3 linked regions of the Homo sapiens genome follow. The protein of the gene in region 3 interacts with the protein of the main gene of each other region in a pairwise test. Each region holds a gene or a part of one and is shown on either strand. Other genes may lie near its edges.

Evidence for each region. Proteins that work in one complex are often made in the same cells at the same time.
Region 1: the proteins of TRAPPC6A (region 3) and TRIM35 interact in binary tests that used the Homo sapiens proteins (3 or more experiments, as listed by UniProt).
Region 2: the proteins of TRAPPC6A (region 3) and LHX4 interact in binary tests that used the Homo sapiens proteins (3 or more experiments, as listed by UniProt).

What each region holds. Positions count from the first base shown.
Region 1 is NC_000008.11:27,300,889-27,308,377, reverse strand, and holds part of TRIM35 (E3 ubiquitin-protein ligase TRIM35), read left to right. Parts: intron 1-3,534; exon of another isoform or gene 3,535-3,617; intron 3,618-7,489. UniProt on the Homo sapiens protein: E3 ubiquitin-protein ligase that participates in multiple biological processes including cell death, glucose metabolism, and in particular, the innate immune response.
Region 2 is NC_000001.11:180,233,159-180,240,647, reverse strand, and holds part of LHX4 (LIM/homeobox protein Lhx4), read right to left. Parts: intron 1-7,489. UniProt on the Homo sapiens protein: May play a critical role in the development of respiratory control mechanisms and in the normal growth and maturation of the lung. Binds preferentially to methylated DNA.
Region 3 is NC_000019.10:45,167,949-45,175,437, forward strand, and holds part of TRAPPC6A (trafficking protein particle complex subunit 6A), read right to left. Parts: intron 1-7,489. UniProt on the Homo sapiens protein: May play a role in vesicular transport during the biogenesis of melanosomes.

The DNA of each region.
Region 1 (7,489 bases), on a different chromosome or scaffold from region 3:
ATGTGAGGAACAGCAAAGTCAAAATCATCCCAGCTAACACATTTCAGTGCTCACTGTGTGCTAGATGCTTTTCAGTGTTCACACGTCAACAAATTTAATGCTCACAAAAACGTATTTTCAGGTCCTGTGTTTCCTGTTACTGCGTAATAAATGTGGTGGTTTAAAATAGCACAAGTTTGTTCTCTTATGGTTCTGGAGGTTGGAAGTCCTAAAATCGAGGTGTCTGCAGGGCTACATTCCTTTTGGAGGCTCCAGGGAGAATTTATTTCCTTGCCTTCTCCAGCTTGCAGAGGCCCCTTCTTCCAGCTCTGAAGTGTGTCATTCCGTTCTGCATCTGTTGTCACTTTGACTTCTTTGACCAGTTCTACTACCTCCCTCTCATAAGGACCCTGTGATGACATTGGGCCCACCCAGGTAATCCAGGATAACCTCCCCACAGCAAGATCCTTAATTTAATCATCTGCACAGTCCCTTTTGCCATACAAGATTCTGGGGATTAGAATGGGGACATCTTTTCGGGGAAATAATTATTCAGCTTGCTACAGTTAGGTGCTATTATCCCCATTTTATAGACAATTATAGAATCATAGAGAGGGTAAGAAACTTGTCCAAAGTCACAGAGCAAGTAGCTCTAAAGATCACCTGGAGCCTTGTTCAGTTCACACACTGGTCCTGGACTTTGAGAGAGGTTTCTCTCATCTCAGACTTCAGCGGGCAGCTGACTGTGTGTTAGGGGTTGGAGTGGCTGTTGACCATTGTCAGGGCTGGCAGAAGGTACTGGTTGTGTGCCAGTACTGTGTCCAGGACAGGACCGGACAGTCCTAGACCTTGCCTTTGTGGGCATGGTTGTATCATCTCACTAATAATTACATAGTTTCAGCTCAACATTCCTGTGAAGGACAGTACAGGATGTGGTGGGAGATTGTAAGGGGGAGGCTGCTCTTGTTTGGTGGGGTGTGGGAAGGAGTCTCCAAGGAAGTGATTTCGCTGAGAGGAGCTGATTGAGGGGCGGCGAGCAGTGTGTGTGTGTGGCGGGGGTGTGGCGGCGGGGCACAGCGTGGGGGTGTGCAGTGACTGAGAGATGGTTCACGTGGGGATGAGGAACTGCAGGACAGATCCCACAGGACACAGAGGGCCCTGCTTAGGAGCTGGGATTTTTATCGTAGGTGCAGTGGCGCATGATGGAAGGACTGATGAGATTTGGGAGCCTGGCATCATGTTTACAGCAGAGCTGTAGCAAGGAACAGTGCTTGGAAGGACCTTCAGAAATCCTAGTCTGGCGTTTCTCAAACTTGAACAAGTATGCATTCTTCTTAAAGGAAAAAATAGTCTAGCCAGTGAGAGTTAAATTATGTTATTATTTACATGCATACAAATGCAAACCTGGTATAAATAGCACTTGCTCATGCTACATATAAGCAATAAAACAAAAGGAAGTGAACAGACTGAATACAAAACTATAATCAATAACATTCCACTTAAAATATTAATTCTAAAGTTTTATTTTGCTGGAACAAAATCTCTACTCCTGGCCAAGATACTTCTGATTCTCCCATTACTCTGTTCCAAGTGACTACTTAATCCGCCCAAATTTCTCTGAAGAGCTCTGGAGCTTTCTTGTTACGGGATTGGCCTTCATTTGGGTCCGGCACATTCTTTACCTGCTATGTGTATTTCTCTTCTTTCCTTATCAGGACAAGACGATGAAAGTCATGTCTTGATATCAAGTAAGCTGTTAAGAAAATATGAATGGTGGCCGGGTGTGGTGGCTCATGCCTGTAATCCCAGCACTTTGGGAGGCCGAGGCAGGCAGATCACGAGGTCAGGAGTTCGAGACCAGCCTGGCCAGTATGGTGAAACCCCATCTCTACTAAAAATGCAAAAATTAACCAGGCATGGTGGCAGGTACCTGTAGTCCCAGCTACTTGGGAGGCTGAGGCAGGAGAATCGCTTAAACCCGGGAGATGGAGGTTGCAGTGAGCCGAGATCGTGCCACTGCCCTCCAGCCTGTACGACAGAGCAAGACACTGTCTCAAAAAAAAAAAAAAGAAAGAAAAAAAGAAAATACGAATGCTGATGATGAAGTTGTGAACTGAAAGCATGTGTCAGCGCTGTTTATGTCGTGGCTTGGAGTAGGATTGTCTTAGGTTTGGTTTAGGTTGCCATTAAATGAAAACATCCTCAGACACAGACCGTGCGTCATTCTATTGTGATGGAATGGTTACATCTTGTGAGGAGGTGGTTACATCTAAGTAATGAGAAGTGGATCAAGGCCAGTGTGTTTCATGCCTGTAATCCCAGTGCTTGGGGAGGCTGAGGCAGGAGGATTGCTTGAGGCCAGTAGTTCAAGATCCTGCACCAAAGAAGAAAAAAATTAGCCGGGTGTGGTGGCACATACCTGTAGTCCCAGCTACTCGAGGGGCTGAGATGGGAGGATTGCTTGAGGCCAGGCATTCGAGGGTGCAGTGAGCTATGACTGGGCCACTGCATCCAGCCTGGGCAACAGTGTGAGACCCTGTATCTTACATAAATAAATAAATAAAGTTCTAGGATCAGAACTCAGGTTTCCTGCCTCCCAGTCCAGCACTCTCCAGCTTGCATCTTCTACAGCAGCCCTGTGCTGAGCTGCCTTGTGCAGACCCTTGTCTTATCCATCTTGCAGGACTGGCATGATGACCATTCTTTGCCACCAGCCTCTCCCTGTCCCAGCTCCAGCCCTCTCTCCCCTTCTGGCGTCAACATCTTAGAGTCCATCTGGCTGGATCTAACCCAAGGGTACTCTCGATACCTCTTAAGCCACATTCCAGGTCTTCCCCCTTCCAATGCTTTTCCCCATTTCCTAACCACTCACCCCCATCCTGATCCCCAGCTTCTAGGTGAGGACTTACCAGCTCTTTGGTTGCACCAGAGGACATTGTTGCTTGCTTGCTTGTCCAGGCCTGTGCCCAGTGGTATTGGGAGTGGGGGGTGTCTCACTAGACCCTGCACACTGAGGCTCCTGAGTGATGGCCTCCAGCAGTGGGCTGCATGGCAGACACTTGCTTTGGAAGGAGGTCTGAACACAAAGGGGAAAGACAGATCTGGGAGACTGATTTGGAGTTGCATAAGAAAGCTCCATGCATTTTTACTGTTCATTTAAGAAACCTGGACCATATCCAGCAGGACAGTTAGGTTACCTGGCATGTAGGTGGCACTTAAGAGCTATGCCGAATGCACAGCATGTGCCTGCCACTCTCATGTAAGCATCTTATAGGGATTGATTTGTGGAGTCCTCACAGCAGTCCTTTGAGCTTGGTAGTATTTTTTATCCCTCTTATCCAGATGAGGAAATGGAGGTGCAGAGAAGTGAAGGAACATGTTCAAGATCACCTGCTACTAGGTAGAGGTGCTGGGATTTGAACCTGGTCGGCCAGGTGCCAGAACTCTTGGCTGCTACATCAATCTGCCTGAAAACAAATCGTGAAATTTGGGAGACTGTAGAGACTTCTCTGCTTTCATTTTTAAGGTGAGGAGCCTGATAGCCGAAGAGAGAAGGAACTTTTTACCAACTCACCAGTGGATAGTGACAAAGACAAGGCTCCAAACCAGCTCTCCTAACCTTCAGTCCAGGAGGCAAGGTATATAGCAGAAAAAACACAGGCATTCCATGTACTCATTGACTGGGCAGGTGGTTAACTGAACATCTACTTTGTGCAGGGACTTGGACATGCAGGGGACAAAACAAAGTCTCTCACCTTGCAGAGCAAGCATTCCTTCTGCAGAAGTGTACCGAGCACCACTATGCAAGGTAGAGAGGACCTGGAGGTTAAGACCTGCCCTCAGGAAAGAGAAGCTATTACCCTGGATAGTGAGTGCTGAGACAGAGGTGGCCAGGGTGCTGTGATGCCCTGGAATGGAACCTGAGCTGGCAAGATCGGGGGGCTTCCTGGAGGAAATGAGGGGTACTAGAGCCGAGTTTTCAAGGTGATGTTGGGTTAGTTGGGGGAAGCAGGTGGGAACCAGGCAGAGCAACAGTGTGTATCAAGTCTCACAAGACAGAAAACCTGGCTCAGGCCAGACAGAGCTGGTTTCACATGCAACTCTAGCACTTTGGTAAGTCCTTGCAAAGAGGCTATGAAGACCTTGTGCAATGAAATTCATTCTTTCCCTTGCCCCTACCTTCCTGCTTCCAGCTATACCACAGAGCACCTGTCCTGTTAATGAAAATTGTGGGTAACGTGATTTTGTAAAGTGCTTAAGATCTTCAATATGCAATTGAAATTTGTTGCTTAAGGAATCAACTTGTCATTTTTGGGAAATCATGTAGTCTATATGATCACATTCTGGATCCTTTAGTATGAATAAAAACCTATTTTGTGTGTGTTTATAACTAATCTTTAACGTAGGCTGGACGCGGTGGCTCATGCCTGTAATCCCAGCATTTTGGGATGCCGAGGCGGGCGGATCACCTGAGATCAGGAGTTCAAGACCAGCCTGGCCAACATGGTGAAACCCTGTCTCTACTAAAAATACAAAAATTAGTTGGGCATGGCGGCAGGCACTTGTAATCCTAGCTACTTGGGAGGCTGAGGCAAGAGAATTGCTTGAATCTGGGAGACAGAGGTTGCAGTGAGCCGAGATTGCGCCACTGCACTCTAGCCTGGACAAGAAGAATGAGACTCTATCTCAAAAAAGTAAAAAATATAAAATAAATAAATAAAAAATCTTAATGTTATAATGTGATGCTAACATCGAAGCTTGTTTGCTCTCCTGAGCTTGGGCTGGGGGATGCTCCAGATCTGTTGTGGGCCCCTGCTACTGCCCATCTCTGCTCATTCATGTGCTCCTTGGGCTACAGGCAGGCCCCTTGAGTGGTAGTTCTATTTGTAATCTAAGCATATTTAGGGTTAAAATTAATACCAAAAGCAAACAAAATAATATTGTTTAGATGCATTCAAATTCACACTTCTTACATGTCATATTTCCTAGGTGAACCACTAGATGCACAGAAGGGGAAAATGGAATAAAAAATGTGTAGTAAATTTTAAAAAAGGAAAGGAAGAAAAAGAAAAATAGAATAAGCAAGACAAATAGCTCAGAACAAGGTGGCAGATTTAAATGCAAACATATCGGTAATTATGTGTTAAATACTCCAGTTAAATGAAAATGTTGATCTGACTGGATAAGAAAACGAAACCTAATTCTGTGTTGCTTAATATAATTATCTCAGTGAGAAAACATTTGATAAAATTTACCATCTTTTTGTGTTTAAAAAAACAGGAAACTAGAAATGGAAGGAATTTCATTAGTTTGATTAAGTATATCTAGCAAAAAAACTTACAGCAAATATCACATTTAATGGCAAAACATTGAAAGCTTTCTTATTGAGATCAAGAAAAAGACAGGAATGCGCATTATGACCAACTCTATTCAGTTTTGTGTGGGATAGCCTTGTCAATGAAGTAAGCCAATAATTATAAATAAAAGATGTAAGGTTTGGAAAGAAGGGAAGCAAAACTGGCATGTGTAGATAATATGGTTGCATATTTTTGCACTGAGATTTCTATGTGTAGAAAATAAAGATTCTACAGTTAAATCATAAGTATTAATAAGTTTAGGTGAATGCTGAATCCAAAATCAAGATGCAAAACCAGTTGTATTTCTATGTATCACTAGCAAATAGAAAATAAAATATAGGCAGGGAGTTTTACACCTGTAATCCCAGCACTTTGGGAGGCTGAGGCAGGAGGATCGTTTGAGCCAAGGAGTTTCAGACCAGCTTGCACAACATAGTCCAGCCTGTCTCTACAAAAAGTTAAAACAAATTAGCCAGGTGTGGTGGTGCATGCTTGTAGTCCCAGCTACTTGGGAGGCTGAGGTGGTGGGAGGATCACTTGAGCACAGGAGGCTGCAGTGAGCTATGATTGTGCTACTACTGCACTGCAGCCTGGGTGACAGAGGGGGACCCTGTTTTGGGTTTTTTTAATTTAAAAATATGTTTACAATAATATAAAAAATAAGATAACTAGGAAGAAATTAATAAAAGATACGCAAAACTCTGATAGGGAAAAATATACTTCGTTGAGAGCTATCAAAGAACATTAAGTAACTGGTGTGATATATTATGTTCGTGGATTAGTAAAGTCAGTATTTAAGCCTTTCAGTTTTCCCCAAATTGATCTATAGAGACAATATTGTACTAATCTAAATCTCAACATGATTATTTTTATGCAACTTCACAGATTCTAAAATTTATATGACCCTCAAAGGGCCAAAAATTGCCAAGACATTCTTGAAGAGAAACCTATCAGAAATCCTCTCTTTTTTACAGCTATAGAAATTATGGCTGTGTGATGTTGGCACAAGGATAAACAGATGGGCCAGAGAAACAGATGGAGAGAACCAAAAAACAGATCTGTGTCTGATTTAAGACAGAGGTGGCTCTGCAGACCAGTGGGCAGTAATGGTCTTTTTAAATAATGGTGCTGAGACAATGAGCTACCTGGTCACACCATGTGCAAAAATAAACTCCAGGTATCCACATCAGACCTAAATGTGAAAGGAAAGCTATAAAGCTTTGAGAAAATACTACAGAGCTATACAATAATAATGCAAAGCTATAAAGCTTTGAGGAAATAATACGATTGTTTTTGTGATCTCAGTGTAGGGAGGTGTTTCTTAAAACTAGTATACTAATCCTAAAGGAAAAGACTAATAAATTTGGCCATATTTCAATTAAGAAAGATAAATGATGAAGTAGAAAATATTCATTACACCTCTAACTAATCAAGGACATACATTGTGTATATATAATAAATTCCCACAAACCAGTTAGGAAAATGGCAGGCAACGCAATGGAAAAATGGACAATACTTTACTGAGTACTTAAAAATAAACATTGAAGTGGTCAATAAACATTTTCTATTAACATTGCTCTTGCTGTAAAAATTGGTACCACTGCTTTGGAAAACAATTTGGCATTACGCAGTAAAGTGAAGACACATATGGTGGCCCAGCAGTTTTATCCCCAGGAATATATTATGAAGAAACGAGTTCCCATGTGTCCCCAGGAGACATGTACAAGAAGGTTACCTCCTCTGGGTCTAACTTGATCCTCTGTATAATGGGACTCACAGTGCTTAACCTTATAGGGAGAATTCGAATTAAATAATTGAATTAAATAGAATGTTTGTAAAGTGCATAATTTAGTGCCTTGTGTCTAGTACATGCTTAATAGTAACTGCTTGCTAGCAATAGTAATATAATTGTTGGTTAGTCTCATCAGCTGACATCTCAGAGAAGGGCCATTTTAGGATTGGTCTTTTCTGAAGGAAACCAGAACTCTCCAAGTGATTGAAAAGTTTGAGAAGATCAAGGGACTATCCCCTTCCCATCCTTATTGTCCCATAAATTCCTAAGGGCCAGGGTTGAAGGGCAGGGGCTGAACTGTGTTGTTTTGGGGCCTGCACACCTTTGGGTAATGCGTATGGACAGCTGCTTCACTCCTGTC
Region 2 (7,489 bases), on a different chromosome or scaffold from region 3:
CTGCTCTCAAGGAACCAGGGGCCACCATGAAACATTTCACAGAGCGTTTGTGTTTGTTTGATCGATTTTAATTATTTGAAAAATGGTGTTTTCTATCCCTTTCGTCACGGAAGATCAAAAGGGTAAAGGAAAAAAAAATTCCACTAAAGAGACTAATATGAGAGCCAACATATCCGACAATGACTTCTAAAATATATTTAAGAAAAGGCACCTTTCTGGGGAAAGGAGTCAGAATTTCAGATCTTTCCATTGGAATCATAATGCTGATGTGCTACTTAAATATTTTTAAAACTTTGTACTGATAGGAATGTTTAGGCCGGGCACGGTGGCTCACACCTGTAATCCCAGCACTTTGGGAGGCCAAGGTGAGAGGATTACTTGAACCCAGAAGTTCGAGACCAGTCTGGGCAACATAGTGAGCCCCTACCTCTATTATAATAATTTTAAAAGGGAATAATGTTTATTTAACGATGCTCTGAGACCAGATTAATATTTTGTAAAGTTTGTACTTTGATGTGCCAGCTTGATGTGCCTCCTGTGAGGCTTTTGCTTTTTAACTCCCTTTGCTTTTTAACTGCCTTCTGGATGAAGTGTTCTTTTTGTTTCATGCTTTGACTTGACAGCCTAATGCTCAGGACAAGGTTTTTCTTGCTCCTTTCGAGAAAAGGAGCTGGGTCCATGGGAGCCACTTCCGGGTCTCCCTGTTTGCAGACCCCACAGTATTCCCCCTCAGGTGGCCATCCTCTTGGGACAGCCAGCAGTGCTCCCAGGGGCGGCTGTGTCTGTGAAATGGGAGCTGTGATCCCAGTCTCTGAGTGCCTTAAGACCACCAGCACTCCAAACTTGGTCAAGTACTTTCAAATTGGCAAGCTCATTCCCTCCTCCCAGACACCCTGTGAAGCGGACATTCATTGTCTACGTTTAAAAGGTTCTGAGAATAAGGGGCTTCCCTACGGGTACACAGTTTGAGGCCGAATTAGGACTAAACCTTCTTTTACTCTGGGTCTGATGGCTTCCACCTGTGCTCAATCAAAGCCACCTCCATCTGGGATTTTTGCCCAAAACCTTTTTGCTGGTGATTTCCCTCCAGAAGTAAGCAGTTTTTTGAGCTCTGTCTCAAATAACATTTGGCCAATATGTATTTCCAAAAACGTTTAATTTTATTTATTTGTTAAGTTTCTTTACTGACTACTAACTGAAAGGAGACGCCAAATGGGGCTTTAAGGAATCACATATGCAACTGAAATAGTATGCAAATGTTTTTCTTGAAATTTTCCATTCCTTTCCCACATGTAAGGAAGAGAAAACAACAAATTGCAGACATTGCTGTTCTGTTGCCTCAGGTTCCCTGAGTAAGAAAGAAGGAAGATGGTTTTCTAAAGGCAGGCTTGGGAAATACTGTCAGTGGGGGGCTCATTGATTTAGTCGGGGAATAACTAATTCTAAAATGCATCAACAAGGTGAAGCTACAGGATATACCAAGCTGTGGCACACCTGCCTAAACACATACCTGAGTTCTGAAATGTCCAGGTCAAAGATTTATAACGGAGGTATAGTTACATTAAAATTAAATTAACTAAGAGGTCTATTACTGGATAAATATTTCAAAAATAAAACTTTCCATTTCAAAGTAGCCACCATCACCGCTGATGATAAAATCCTGTTTTCTGGTCACAATTCCCCTTTTAAATCACCTGGTAATTGTGACCAAAGGAAGAAGGCCTGATTCATCCATGCAGTCCCCACGCAGGGAAAACCTGAGGCCCACGACTCAGTTTTCCATGACAAATCTGGTGTGTGCCGCCCCCCAACCCTGGCTCTTTGTCATTAAAGAACATTCATTTTTGTTGAACCGTTTATAGTTCTCGTTTTTATATTTTCACTTATTCTAAATCAGCGTATCTTGAAGAGACAATAACAGAATTTTCCAAAATGTTTTTATAAAATTCCTCTTAAGGGATTTTCACAACCTAGTAATAATCACATAACACAGCTAAAGCACAAAATTCCAACATTAATTCTTTAAAACATAAAGAGAAAAGGCACATTGAACATCAATGATGACAGCAGCATTAAAGAAAGAGAGCTGGGCCAGCCACAAAAATATTAGAAAAATTCTAATTTTAAAAATTAGCATCGCATTGAAGGTAAATCATATTCTCTATCATCATATGCACTGACATGTTTTAAAATGCATCAGTGTACTCACGTCTTTTTATCTAATTTCTAGTTTTTTCTAGTTTGTCTTGACAAATGACTAGCAACCAGAAAAAAAGTCAGAAAATCCTTCTTACATCAGAAATGATCACACCTGAAGCTGTCCTTTCCCTTCACTTGCTTTCCGGAATCCTTCCCACTTTTACTGTTTGCTTTATTTGGTGGCTTGGGGTGCCTTTGAAAATCTCCTTTGTTCTTTTTCGGCTTAGTCAAAAATAGAAACCTCTTCAATAAAAGAACAAATTCAAAAGTAAACTGGAGATAATTTCGATGTTATCATTTTAAGGCTGTAATTTGGATATTTTAACATAAGGAGTCGAGTAACAAATGAAATACACAATGTAAATATGTATTTGCAGGGATTATCTCCTAGGTGATATATTGTCACGTAATTAGTATTCTTCAGTAGGATATCATATATCTCAGTAATTGCAAATAAAACAGAAAATTACATTAAGCAAATCCATGTTTGTGTATGGAAATGTTGTAGACACGTCTATTTCCACTCCATTTTCACATTTAATCATTGCTAAATCTCTACAATGTATTTTTCTAATGTCTCACTCTGTAACAGTATTCCATATGTTTGGCAATCTTTCCCTCATAGCAAGAAACTTTCAATTAATTTGGCTGCAAGTTTTGTCTCTATTAAGCTATTCCCAGAACCAATCTCTTAACCCCCTAACATCATAATTAAAGCAAATTATACTTTAAAGACATGTGGGGGTGAGGTACTGCAGTTAAACATCTGTGGCTAGACCCAGACTGACAGAGGGAACAGGGTGGGGAGATCTGAGAAAAGAAATCCACCAAAATTACAGCAGGAGGTAGGACTCACCTCCCAAGACGACTTTCCAGTCAGCCGCTCATACAGTTAACCCCAAAGTCCATTTTCCAAGGGAGAATCCATTTCATTTTCACCAATTAAACCCAACCTGTCCACCTACCCCCAAAAGCAATGCCTCAAAATGGTTGACTTGTGCTCCATTTTGATCAGGGATCCTATAAAATTGAGGACTAAATAAGGTAAAACCTCACAGTGGCATCTAATTTTAGTTGATTTCTTCCTACCACAGACAATAAGAGCCCAGCTCCAGGGCGGCTTCTGTCCTATACCCAGCACCTGTGCTTCCCTCCCAGGGCGCCTAGAAAGAGAGATGGCTCCACCACGGTGCAGCCTGCTGGACACACGACCGCCCTCCTCCCCGCCCCCCCCGCCGAGTAAAACCCCTGTGTCGTGAATTCCTGCACTATCCCATGTTTCTCCCTGCAAAGATTTTGCAAAGGAAGGAAGGGATAGACAGAAGAAATTGGGGGAACAGGGGAAGGAGAAGGAGGGAGGAAGAAAGAGAAATTCAAGCCACCAGACCGCGATGGAATTTTACTAAAAGCAGTGGACCCTATTTGCCCACATCTCTGTTATGGGCATTGTTAACACTCATTCCAGGAAGGGAGAAAGGCAAAACATTGTTACAAAAGTAAAATCGCCTCAACGGCACCCCAGCCAGCCCTCTCCAAATTCAGCCGTCTATGCAGCCATGTATTTGGTGCTGCCACAGCAAACTGCTGCTTCAGTCTGTCTCCAACCGTGGGTTTCTCAAAGTGGGTAATATTACTCCTTTTGTCCTCTCTTCAGCTAAACTGGTTCCAAGTCCCTATGCGTCCCAAAGCTCCTCAGCTCTATTCCTGAAAAATTTCCTTAATTGAAAGAAAAGGCACAAGGTCCCTTTATCCGATTCCACCTACCCGCCCCCCATCCACAACTCTTCAATAGGAAGAGGACACAAGTTTCCCAGCCAGAGAAATCCACTAAATACCCACCATTCCCGTCCAAAACAAGAAGCTCAAAGCAGATTTCATAACAAGGTAATAGAAAGAACAGTTAATTCCTGTTAACTAATTTTCCATCCCTGCAGGACTGCAAGCCCCATCCTCCTTCCCCCGGCTCCTCCTCTCCTCCCAGCACTGGGGTCTCTGGCTTCAGTCTACTAATGTGGATGCTAAGTAATCACTAATTGACTGTAACGCAGAGTGAAAGGGCATTAAAATCCGAGGCAACTGGGAAGTTAGGACAATGCAAATATTTAGGACTTGAGGCTGTCTACACCTGGCCAGCGGGGTCATCGGGTCACTGTTCAAAATACAAGATGCCCCTGTGGCCCAAGTTTTTGTCTACTCAATGGAAAGAAATTGCTTTGCTGGTTTCCCGGCTCTCCCACCCCCACCCCACCTCTAGGAGCACTCGATTTTTAAAAATGGACCCTGGTATTTGCAGCCCTGTAGGCGGTCTCCGAGACGTCTTGAGGGCTCGCGTTACCCTAATCCTCACAGCATTTAGTCTACATTCTTGCCTTAACCCCCCTTTGTTTTTGGCGTGTCAAGAGGCAGGTGCAGATACACCTAGCTTCGGTCGTCCTTCCTTCAACTTCCTGCTGCTCCCGGTTTTATCCCTTCACGGCTTTTCTAGTAATTCATTTCCTTTTTCATTAGTTTCACCCTTCGGATCTCTTTAAAAGACACGTTTGCCCCACTGTCTAAAAATAATAAGGTCCCATCCTGCACAAAGCAAACCCCCTGAGACACAGGGATGCGCTCGGTCCCAGTCCAGCCGCGGCCTCTCGTGCGGTGAGTGCACCCGGTGGCCCGCGCCACCTCGCCTTCCCCGGCGGCGCACAGTGCCGCCAACTCCCTTCCCTGGTCGATTTTAATTGACATCCTCAGCCGCCTAGGTAGAGACTCTGTCTCTCTGGAGCCTGACACGTTTCCAGCGCTCGTCAAGGTCCACTAAGCTGCGGAACCGAGTGGGGAGCCGAGGCTCGAACACCCGCAGAACGCGCGGGCCGGGCACACCCGCCGGCGGCCTCCCCGCTCCGAAGAGGAGGAGCCCCTTCGAAAATGGGAGCATCGCTTTCCCAGGGTTAAACAGTCACATTAGACTCGAGCCGCCAGGGTTGGGGTTTAATTTTGTCATTCCAAATGCTTGGAACGAAATGGGTCTGGAGAGGAAGAGAGGTTTTCACCCGGCCTCCTCCTAATGGGCGCGCCGTCCGCACTCGCGCCTGCCGCGCCTATCCTTGCTGGAAAAGTCCCTGCCACCACTCTAAAGGGCAGCAAAGGGGTCCCAGGCCTGGCTAATTCCAGCTCAGTCGGACCTCTGGGCTACCTGAGATAATAAGCTCCGAAAACGGGCGCGAACCTCTGGGCGGATGGACTGCAAGGGCCAAGGCGCAGGAACCTCTATTGCAGCGCACCGGGGAGAGAGAGGCGGTCCCTCCCTTGTCCCCTTCTGGGCTACGACCTTTACCCACCGCTGCGGGACGCAGTAAGCGCAAAGCCGGCTACCCGCGAAGGGCCGGCCGCCCTGTCCACATCTACCTCCACCGGCGAGTCCCCCAAAACCCAGAGCACGCCCGGGATTCCCGGGCGAGTGCCCAGGATCGTGAGCCGCCCATGGGTGCGCAGCAAACGCTCATTTAAAGAATTCATCGTCTGTTCCCCGGGCCACCCAGGCCGGCATCTGCCCGCGGGGCGGAGGAGCCCTGCCCCGGTCGTAGCGAGGTCATGTGGGTCGCGCTCCCAGACCCTAGGACGCCACTCCTGCTCAGCCCTGCGTAGCCCCGCCTAGCTCTGGTTTTCCACGAGCCCGGACCTCGGCCAAGAGAGGAAATAAACTTGAGTTAGGTCCTGCTTCTTCTCAGTCCCGACTTTACGACTTCCCGGGACACTGCGGACTGCTCAATGCAGACCTTTGCCCCTCACCTGCTGCACCTGCGTGCTCCGTGTCCGGCTTTAACAGTTAATTCCGCATGCGGAGCGCACTGGGACAGCGGCTTTCCAAGCTTCCCTCCGTGCTAACGGCCCTCTCAGATAACAAGGCCCTGGAAAGGAGGAGGCCGGAGCCCTCTCGCCCCTTGGGAGTCCTCAGCCATCCGCTGTCCCAAGCGGGGCGCTGCCGCGCTTACCCGGGTTTCTCCAAACTCCCTTCTTTGTGGTACACAGCTCTGGCCAGGGGCTGGAACGGGATCCTAGCAGTTAGGACATCGGAACCCCCAACCCATCAGGCCCGAATCGGCCGGCGGGGACAGCTGACCTCATCTGTAAAAATTGTCTCCTGCCTGAGAATATATTCTCGCGACGCAGGGAGGGAGGTCTATGGTGCCTACAGCTGCTATATCGGAATGTTCGGAATATGATAGAATCTCAATCTATTATATATATATATATATATATATATATATATATATATATATATATATATATAATTTGTGTGTGTTGTGTGTGTCTGTTTCTCGCACTAGGAGACAAGGCAGGAATGGAAAGAAGAGCGAACAGCACCAGCGTTTGAGTGAACTCCTGTCTTGGACAGTGAATCCATCTCACCCCCTTAAGAAATGTCCTGCAAGAAGGACAGTCAACAACCCCGGGGACTCGGATCTGCAACTCGACCTGCGCTGGGACATTACCCCACGCACCCCGGAGGAGCCCCAGGAGAGGAAGTCCCAGGGAAAACCTTTACCCCGACCCTACCAAACACAAAATAAAATACCTTTTTCCTACAGCTTCGGGGTTCGCCAGAGCTTGCCGGAAGCATTTTAGGAGACAAGGAGGGGGACAGAGACCCCCAGGCCTGCATTCCAATTACCACCCCCAGCGGAGACCCCGCGGGGCTCCTCCTTCTCCCGTGCGGGCTGCCCTCTCTCCCGCCAGCGATCCGGGCGGCGGGCTTCCGTCGTCCTTTCCCTCGGTGCCTGGGGAGACTACATGGCAGATGGGTCAAAACCGAGGCGGATAAAACGCCCCACCTTCCTATATGCCTCGCTCTTTTCCGCGTCTCCTCAGAGGGCATGGCCGGCCAGCAGGGCCCCGACGCGTGGAGGGACTGCTGAGGTCCGCGGGGAGAGTTTTGGAGGCGGCTCGGAAGGCTCTCGCCGTACCCGTACCCAACACGGCCCCGGGTCAGGCGCTGTGAGGATTCGGATCTCGACGTCCCTACAGCCCGGAGGGAGGTGGCGGGGACGAGCTGTCGGTGCGGGCCGTAGGGACAGCTGTAGGGCTGTCGGAGCGACGAGGCCCGCACCGGGGGCCGCGCGACCAAGGCGCGGTAAAAAACCAGGAGGGCTACGGCGCGAACTGCTAAGTCCGCACGGGAGCCTGCGGGGGCGGGAGGCCGGGACAGAGTGGCGAGGAAGAGGCCAAGTCTGGAGCAAGACCAGAGATGAGAGAGAAATTATTACATCATTTGGAAACGTTTTCCTAAAGGGTATGCCCCTCA
Region 3 (7,489 bases):
GATCATGCCACTGTACTGCAGCCCAGGCAACAGCAAGACCCTGTCTTTTTTTTTTTTTTTTTTTTTTTTTTTGAGACAGAGTCTCGCCCTGTCGCCCAGGCTGGAGTGCAGTGGCGCAATCTCGGCTCACTGCAAGCTCCGCCTCCCGGGTTCACGCCATTCTCCTGCCTCAGCCTCCTGAGTAGCTGGCACTATAGGCACCCGCCACCACGCCCAGCTAATTTTTTTGTATTTTTAGCAGGGACGGGGTTTCACCATGTTAGCCAGGATGGTCTTGATCTCCTGACCTCGTGATTCACCCACCTCGGCCTCCCAAAGTGCTGGGATTATAGGCGTGAGCCACCGCGCCCGGCCCTGACCCTGTCTTAAAAAATAAATAAAAAACAAAAAACCAGTAAGACATTTACTCGCTTCCTCCAGCTCAGGGTCCTGGGTGGCCAGAGCCCGTCCTGGCAGGGCCAAAAGCAGGAATGGACCCTGGACAGAACGCCATCCCATCACAGGGCGCACACGGGCCCACACTCACTCACACTGGGCCCACGGAGACCCGGGAGCTCACCCAGCGGACACATCCCAAGGATGCACAAGGAAAGGAGAGCCCAGAGGAACTTGCACCAGCACAGGGAGAACCCACAACCACCACCCAGACAATGGTCCCGGGAATCATTATTTTTTCCTCATCAATGTCACAACAAAATGTTATTCCAGGACCGGCATACTGTGTGGCAGGCGTTTTCTACAGCCTTCTTGTTTTACCTTTCCAGCCTCACAGAAGGCTGTAATTCCAGGTGGAAACAGGGGCTCTGAGGTTAAGAAGAACCCATCCAAGGCACCCTCAGCACGGGACTGTCTTTCACACCCCAGCAGGTCCAGATAGGAGGGTGGGTGGGGTGACAGCCATGGCTGTTGAGGGCCTCACGGAGGTGAGGAGCGCTGGGAATGGCGGGGGGGCCTGAGCTGAGGTCGCCCATATCTGAAGCCAAGGTGGCCCTTCCTCTGCCTGGCCCCTTGCCAGGCCTCGCCCTCATGGGTGACAACGACACGGCTTCCTGTTGCACTGTCTCCCTCTGGTGTCACCATCTGCTTTCCTCCAGTGTCCTCAGGCACAGCAGGGCCGGCCACACAGCAGAGGCTCATGGAAGGGGCCGATGACTGCAGGAGACGGGCAGGTGTGTGTGAGAGACAGAGTGGGAAGAGACCCCTGCCCGTGGGTCCTTCATGGCAGCACTACCAGCGGCGCAGGTGCAGAGCCACCGCCTGGGTCCAGATCCGCCCCAGCACTTACCAGTGTGGGACCTGGGCCAATGGCTGAATACCTGTGCCTCAGTTTCCTCATGTAAAAAAGAGGGTCATTTTGTTTGTTTTTGAGATAGGGTCTCATTCTGTCACCCAGGCTGGAGTGCAATGGCACGATCTTGGCTCACTGCAGCCTCTACCTCCTGGGTTCAGGTGATCCTCCTACCTCTGCCTCCCAAGTAGCTGGGACTACAGGTGTGAGCCACTGCGTCCAGCCCAAAGGAGGGGAATATTAATGGCAGCTACCTCCAGGATCCTCACAAGGAGTAAGGGTTGGTAAAGGCAACCTGAGTACTTCAAGGCAGTTCCGGGAGCCTTACTTATTGCATTCACAGCCTCCACATCTGTCAAACAAGGAGACGGCCCCAGCCAATGAGGGATGAAGCCCTTGGCTGGAGGAGAACCCCAGGAAGGAAGGGGGTCTGTTCTGTGGGCTCCTGTAGCCAGCACCTAGAACAGCCCGGGCGAGAGCTCGCTGCCTGGTAGCTGCGGCTCCCGTGTCACCTCCTCCCACAGCGAAGCTCCTGGAGGCAGGGCCCAGGCTGCACTCTGAGGGAACACGTCTGTGTCCACAGCAAAGCTCCCAGAGGCAGGGCCAGGCTGCACTCTGGTGGAACACGTCTGTGTCCCCACTCGCTAAGGGCTCCTTTATGTCCCTCCCTCATTCATGCCACAGACATTTCCTAGTGTCCTCCAGGAGCTCACCTACCTTGCCTGGCAGGGTTGACAGGTGCCCAAATGATGCCAACTGACAATCTGGGAAGGGCTGGGAGACTGAGTGCAAGGGGCCCGGGCAGTGCAGTGCAGAGCCTGCCCTCCAGGAGGGGGCCGGAGGTGGCAGGTATTCCAAGCAAAGGGCATGTGCCAAGGCAGGGGTGAGAGGCGGGGAAGGGAAGGGGCCCTCAGAGTGGGCTGCAGAGGGGGCATTTTCCCCTGCAGGCAAGTGCAGCCAACCTGAGGGTCAACGCAGGCCACGTTGCCTGAATGCCAGCCACAGTGGGCCACAGACTCAGTCCCTGCCCTGCTGGAGCTGGCGTTTCACCCGGGGAATGGGCAAAGGTGCAATGGCCGGCTTCACTATGCTCACAGCGACTGCCAAGAGGGAGGCAGGTGTGCTGCGAGGGTGCACTCCCACCCCTAGGAAGCACCCCGACTGTGCTGAGCCTGAGGGAAGAGGGGGAGTTCAACAGCAGGAGTGGGCTGTGAAGGCACACCAGGCCCAGGTCACAGCCAGGACGGCAGCCCCCGGAGGGGTGAGCTGGGGGAGAGAGTCAGCAGGGTCCTTCAGCCAGGCCAGGAGCGTGGAGTCTGAAGGGGTTCCAGCAAGTTCAGCTTTTCCCTTCATGAACTTCACACTGCCTGGGTTTGAATCTCGGCCCCGCCACTCACTGGCTCTGTGACCTTGGGCAGATTAGCCAACCATCCCGTGCCTCAGTTTCCCCACATGTGCCATGGGGCTAATGGCAGTACCTGCTCACAGTGGTGGTGTGACTGGCAGGTGGCAACAGCTGGATACACGGCTGTGTGACTGCTGGCCCCACTGTACCCAGCCCTGGACAGGGGCCATTCAGATCCTGGCTGAACTGAAAAGGGCTGTGGGGAATCACAGCAAAAGGGAGGGGCCGAGGAGGAGCAGGAGGCAGGGAAGAAAGGGCGGAGGAGGAAGGGAGAAGCCTCCACCCACCTCATCACAGCGAGACCTGGTGGTGTCCATGCCCATGTCACTGCAAAAGCTCTTCAGAGGTTAGGGGTTTATCTTTCTTAAAAACAGAAGGGGCTGGGCGCGGGGGCTCTTGCCTGTAATCCCAGCACTTTGGGAAGCCAAGGCGGGAGGATCACTTGAGGTTAGGAGTTTGAGACCAGCCTGGCCAACATGGCAAAACCCTGTCTCTACTGAAAATACAAAAATTAGCCGGGCGTGGTGGCGCACGCCTATAATCCCAGCTATTCAGGAGGCTGAGCCACCAGGATCGCTTGAACCCGGGAGGCAGAGGTTTCAGTGAGCTGAGATCACACCAACACATTCCAGCCTGGGTGACAGAGCGAGACTCAGTCACAAAACAAAACAAAACAAAACAAAACAAAACAAAACAGAAGGGCTGGCCAGACAGAGACTCTCCCATTCATATGAATCTGCCAGAGCCCAGCCCAGAGCCGGTGCATTTCTGGGGCTCCCCACGCCTGCCTCTGCTGAGTTTACACACAGACCGGATGAAAGGAAAGGTGGAAGGGAAGTCTTATCAGTGTCGGTGCTAATGACATCCACCACACAGGAAGGATCAATCAGACACAAAGCAGAGTTCCTGGAAATGAACAAATATGGTGGCCAAAATCAACACTTTTTAACAAGGGAACTGAATAACAGAGAAACCTGTAAGACAGATAACACCTCCCAGAAGAAAAACAGGAGGGAGGAAAAAATGAGAGAAAAGCTACAGGATGCTTGGAAGAGATGCAGGAAGTCTAATATTCCCTGTGGTGCCTACAGGACATACAGGGAACGATGCAGGAGAAGAAATCATCAGAGAGATCACAGGAGAAAAATGTCCTGAGCTAAAGGAAGATTCACACGTCCAGACTGAAGCCAAGGGGTTGAGCTCCAAGGAGGATGAACGGAAAAAGCAAACCAAAGCCCCTTTAGACACTTGGGAGCTCCTGGTCTCAGACAATGGGTGACAGCGCCTTAGCTCTTTACTACATGCACTCAGGGGAATCCTCTCTTTGCCCAAAGGCTTCCCTTGTCTTCAAAGCCTCTGAGGTAGAAAAGCCACGGCTGCTTCCTCCAAGGGCTTCTCCTCCTTAGAGAACAAAGGCCTTCCTGGCCCCTCTGGCCGGTCCTCCAGTTCACAACCTGTGACAGCCCAGGAGAATGGCCACAAATAACCACCGTACCAGGCAGGATAGGAGGTCACAAAAGCCCTACACACTGGCTGTGGCTCCTGGGCACCTGTGCTGTGGGGACAGAGATGAAGGAGCCACCATCCCTGTCCTCAAGGAGCTCTGAAGCTGGTGGGAAAGGCGGCCTGTGCTACCCAGAAGCCCTGGGGCCAGAAGCCTGAGTTCTAATTTTGCCTTTAAGAGAACATTCTGCCCTGAACTGGGAGGGAGGCGGGTGGGGGCCATGTGCTCCACCCCTTCCTGTCTCTTGTGTCTGCCCTACCCCTCGATTGTTCTCTAGGCACCTGCTAGCTCCTGGGCAGAGGCTGACCCTGTTCAACGCCCACCTGCTGAGCCACTCTGTGCCAGGCCCAGGGGTGTGGTGGGGAACCCAGGGAAGGAGCAGCCCTGGTTAAGAAAAGCACACAGACAGAAGTGCTGGCACACAGATGGGTGAGTGAGGGGTGGGTGCGAGAAGCCTGCAGGACTTCCCTGCTGTTGCCCTCAACTCTCCTCCCTGGTCCAGCAAGGCATCCTGAGCAAGTCCAGATCCTGCCTCTGCCCACTCAGAACTCCCCATCCTGTCCCCTGGCCCAGCCCGGAAGGTTGAGCCCACCACAGCCTCTGCCTTAAGCTCCTGCAACAGCGGGGCCCTTCCCAGGCCAATCTCCATCCAGTCCATTCCTGTGGCCAGGGAGACATTTCTAGAATGTAAATCTGAGCCAGGCGCACCTCAGTTTAAACCCGGCTATGGCTCCCACTGCCTTCGGGATGGAGCCCCAGTTCCCAGGAGGGCCTCGCTGGAGCTCCCAGCCACAGATGCTCAGGACGGTGTTCCGGGCAGGGACCTATCTGACAGCCGCTCCGCCCGCCCCACACCCTCCTCAGATAAGGGGCTGCCCAAGTGCACTCTCGGGGTGTGGTGGATGGAGGCCTGGCGCAGCAGGGCTATTCTCGGGGCGCCTCGGGCCTGGTCTCAGACAATGGGTGACAGCGCCTTAGCTCTTTACTACATGCACTCAGGGGAATCCTCTCTTTGCCCAAAGGCTTCCCTTGTCTTCAAAGCCTCTGAGGTAGAAAAGCCACGGCTGCTTCCTCCAAGGGCTTCTCCTCCTTAGAGAACAAAGGCCTTCCTGGCCCCTCTGGCCGGTCCTCCAGTTCACAACCTGTGACAGCCCAGGAGAATGGCCACAAATAACCACCGTACCAGGCAGGATAGGAGGTCACAAAAGCCCTACACACTGGCTGTGGCTCCTGGGCACCTGTGCTGTGGGGACAGAGATGAAGGAGCCACCATCCCTGTCCTCAAGGAGCTCTGAAGCTGGTGGGAAAGGCGGCCTGCGCTACCCAGAAGCCCTGGGGCCAGAAGCCTGAGTTCTAATTTTGCCTTTGAGTCTTGCTGAACCACCTCGAAATCCCTTCCTCTACCAAGCACAGGGTCCCTCCTCTGTGAATCGGGAGGGCTGTCCTGAGGACTAAATGCAGTCAACACTGTGCAAGTACTGCACAGACGCCCTCAGGAAACGGGAGGCCTGTCTGGTTCAGAGGAACCCTTTTGGGCCAAAGAGAAGGAATGGAGAGAGGAGGTGGGGCCAATAAAGAGAAAGGACTGAGGAAGCCGTTTCTCATGACAGGCCCCCTGAAAAACGGGGCTCCCCAGGAGGAAGGAGTGAGGGGAAACGATGCAGTTCTCACCCCTAGCTGCAGCGAGAGCCACCTGGGAGCTTTCTGAGGCCTGACACTCAGGCCTCACCCCAACCGGGTTCGTCAGAGTCTCTGGTGTGGGACTCCAGCATCGGAATGTAGTGGCAGCTGGGTAGGGAACCCCTGCCCAAGGTCCCAGGCACATTCGTGTGCTCTGAAAGGCTGGTGGTGAGCAGAGCTGAGTAAGCCAGTTTCCCACACTCGCTTGACCACAGAAACCCATTAAAATCCTTCCCAGGGCAAATGCTGGGAAATGCAAGTGAGAGTTTACAGCACAGGCTTTGGAAGTGGGAGGCCTGGTCGCGCTCCTGACTCTGCCACTTGAGAGCAAGGAACTCCGTCCATCAAAGCCTCCGCCGCCTCATCTGTAAATCGGGGAGGACCATGCCAACCTCTCTGGGTCATCAGAAGATCAAATGAAATCAAGAGTGAGAAGCCATGAGTGCACACAGGAAGCACTCATATGAGGGGAGGGAGGGAAGAGCTAGCACTGCTCATAAGCCAAATGAATCCCAGTCCCCACCCATCCCCACCTGCCACGGCACAGGCTCTGCATTCACCTCCTCAACACGTCCACACTGAGGACCCACTACGAGCCAGGACATCCAGTGGTCATCAATACACACCCAGGCCCATCCCGCACAAAGTACACTCCGGCTGGGGGAGACGCATGTGAATTAAAGGATCATACAGATACACAATTCAGACGCATCCTGGCAGGGCGTGCTGGCTCACACCTGTAATCCCAGGTGTGAGTTTTTGGGAGGCTGAGGCCAGAGGATCGCTTGGGCCCAGGAGTTCAAGGTCAGCCTGGGCAACATTGTGAAAACCTATCTCTACAAAAAATTTAAAAATTAGCAGGGTATGGTTGTGTGCACCTGTACTCCTAGCTACTCAGGAGGCTGAGGTGGGAGGATCACTTGAGCCCAGGAGTGTGAGGCTACAGTGAACTATGATCATGCTACTGCACTCCGGCTTGGGTGACAGAGCAAGACTCTCTTTAAAAAAAAATCAGCCGGGCGTGGTGGCTCACGCCTGTAATCCCAGCACTTTGGGAGGCCGAGGTGGGCAGATCATGAGGTCAGGAGATCGAGACCATCCTGCCTAACACATTGAAACCCCGTCTCTACTAAAAATACAAAAAAAAAAAAAATTGCCAGGCGCGGTGGCTCACACCTGTAATCCCAGCACTTTGGGAGGCCAAGGCAGGCAGATCACAAGGTCAGGAGATCGAGACCATCATGGCTAACACAGTGAAACTCTGTCTCTACTAAAAATACAAAAAATTAGCCGGGCGTGGTGGCAGTCACCTGTAGTCCCAGCTACTCGGGAGGCTGAGGCAGAAGAATGGCGTGAACCCGGGAGGCAGAGCTTGCAGTGAGCCCAGATCGCGCCACTGCACTCCAGCCTGGGGGACAGACCGAGACTCTGTCTCAAAAAAAAAAAAAAAAATTAGCCGGGTGTGGTGTCGGGCACCTGTGGTTCCAGCTACTCGGGAGGCTGAGGCAGGAGAATGGCATGAACCCGGGAGGCGGAGCTTGCAGTGAGCCGAGATCGCGCCACTGCACTCCAGCCTGGGCGACAGAGCGAGACTCCGTCTCAAAAAAAAAAA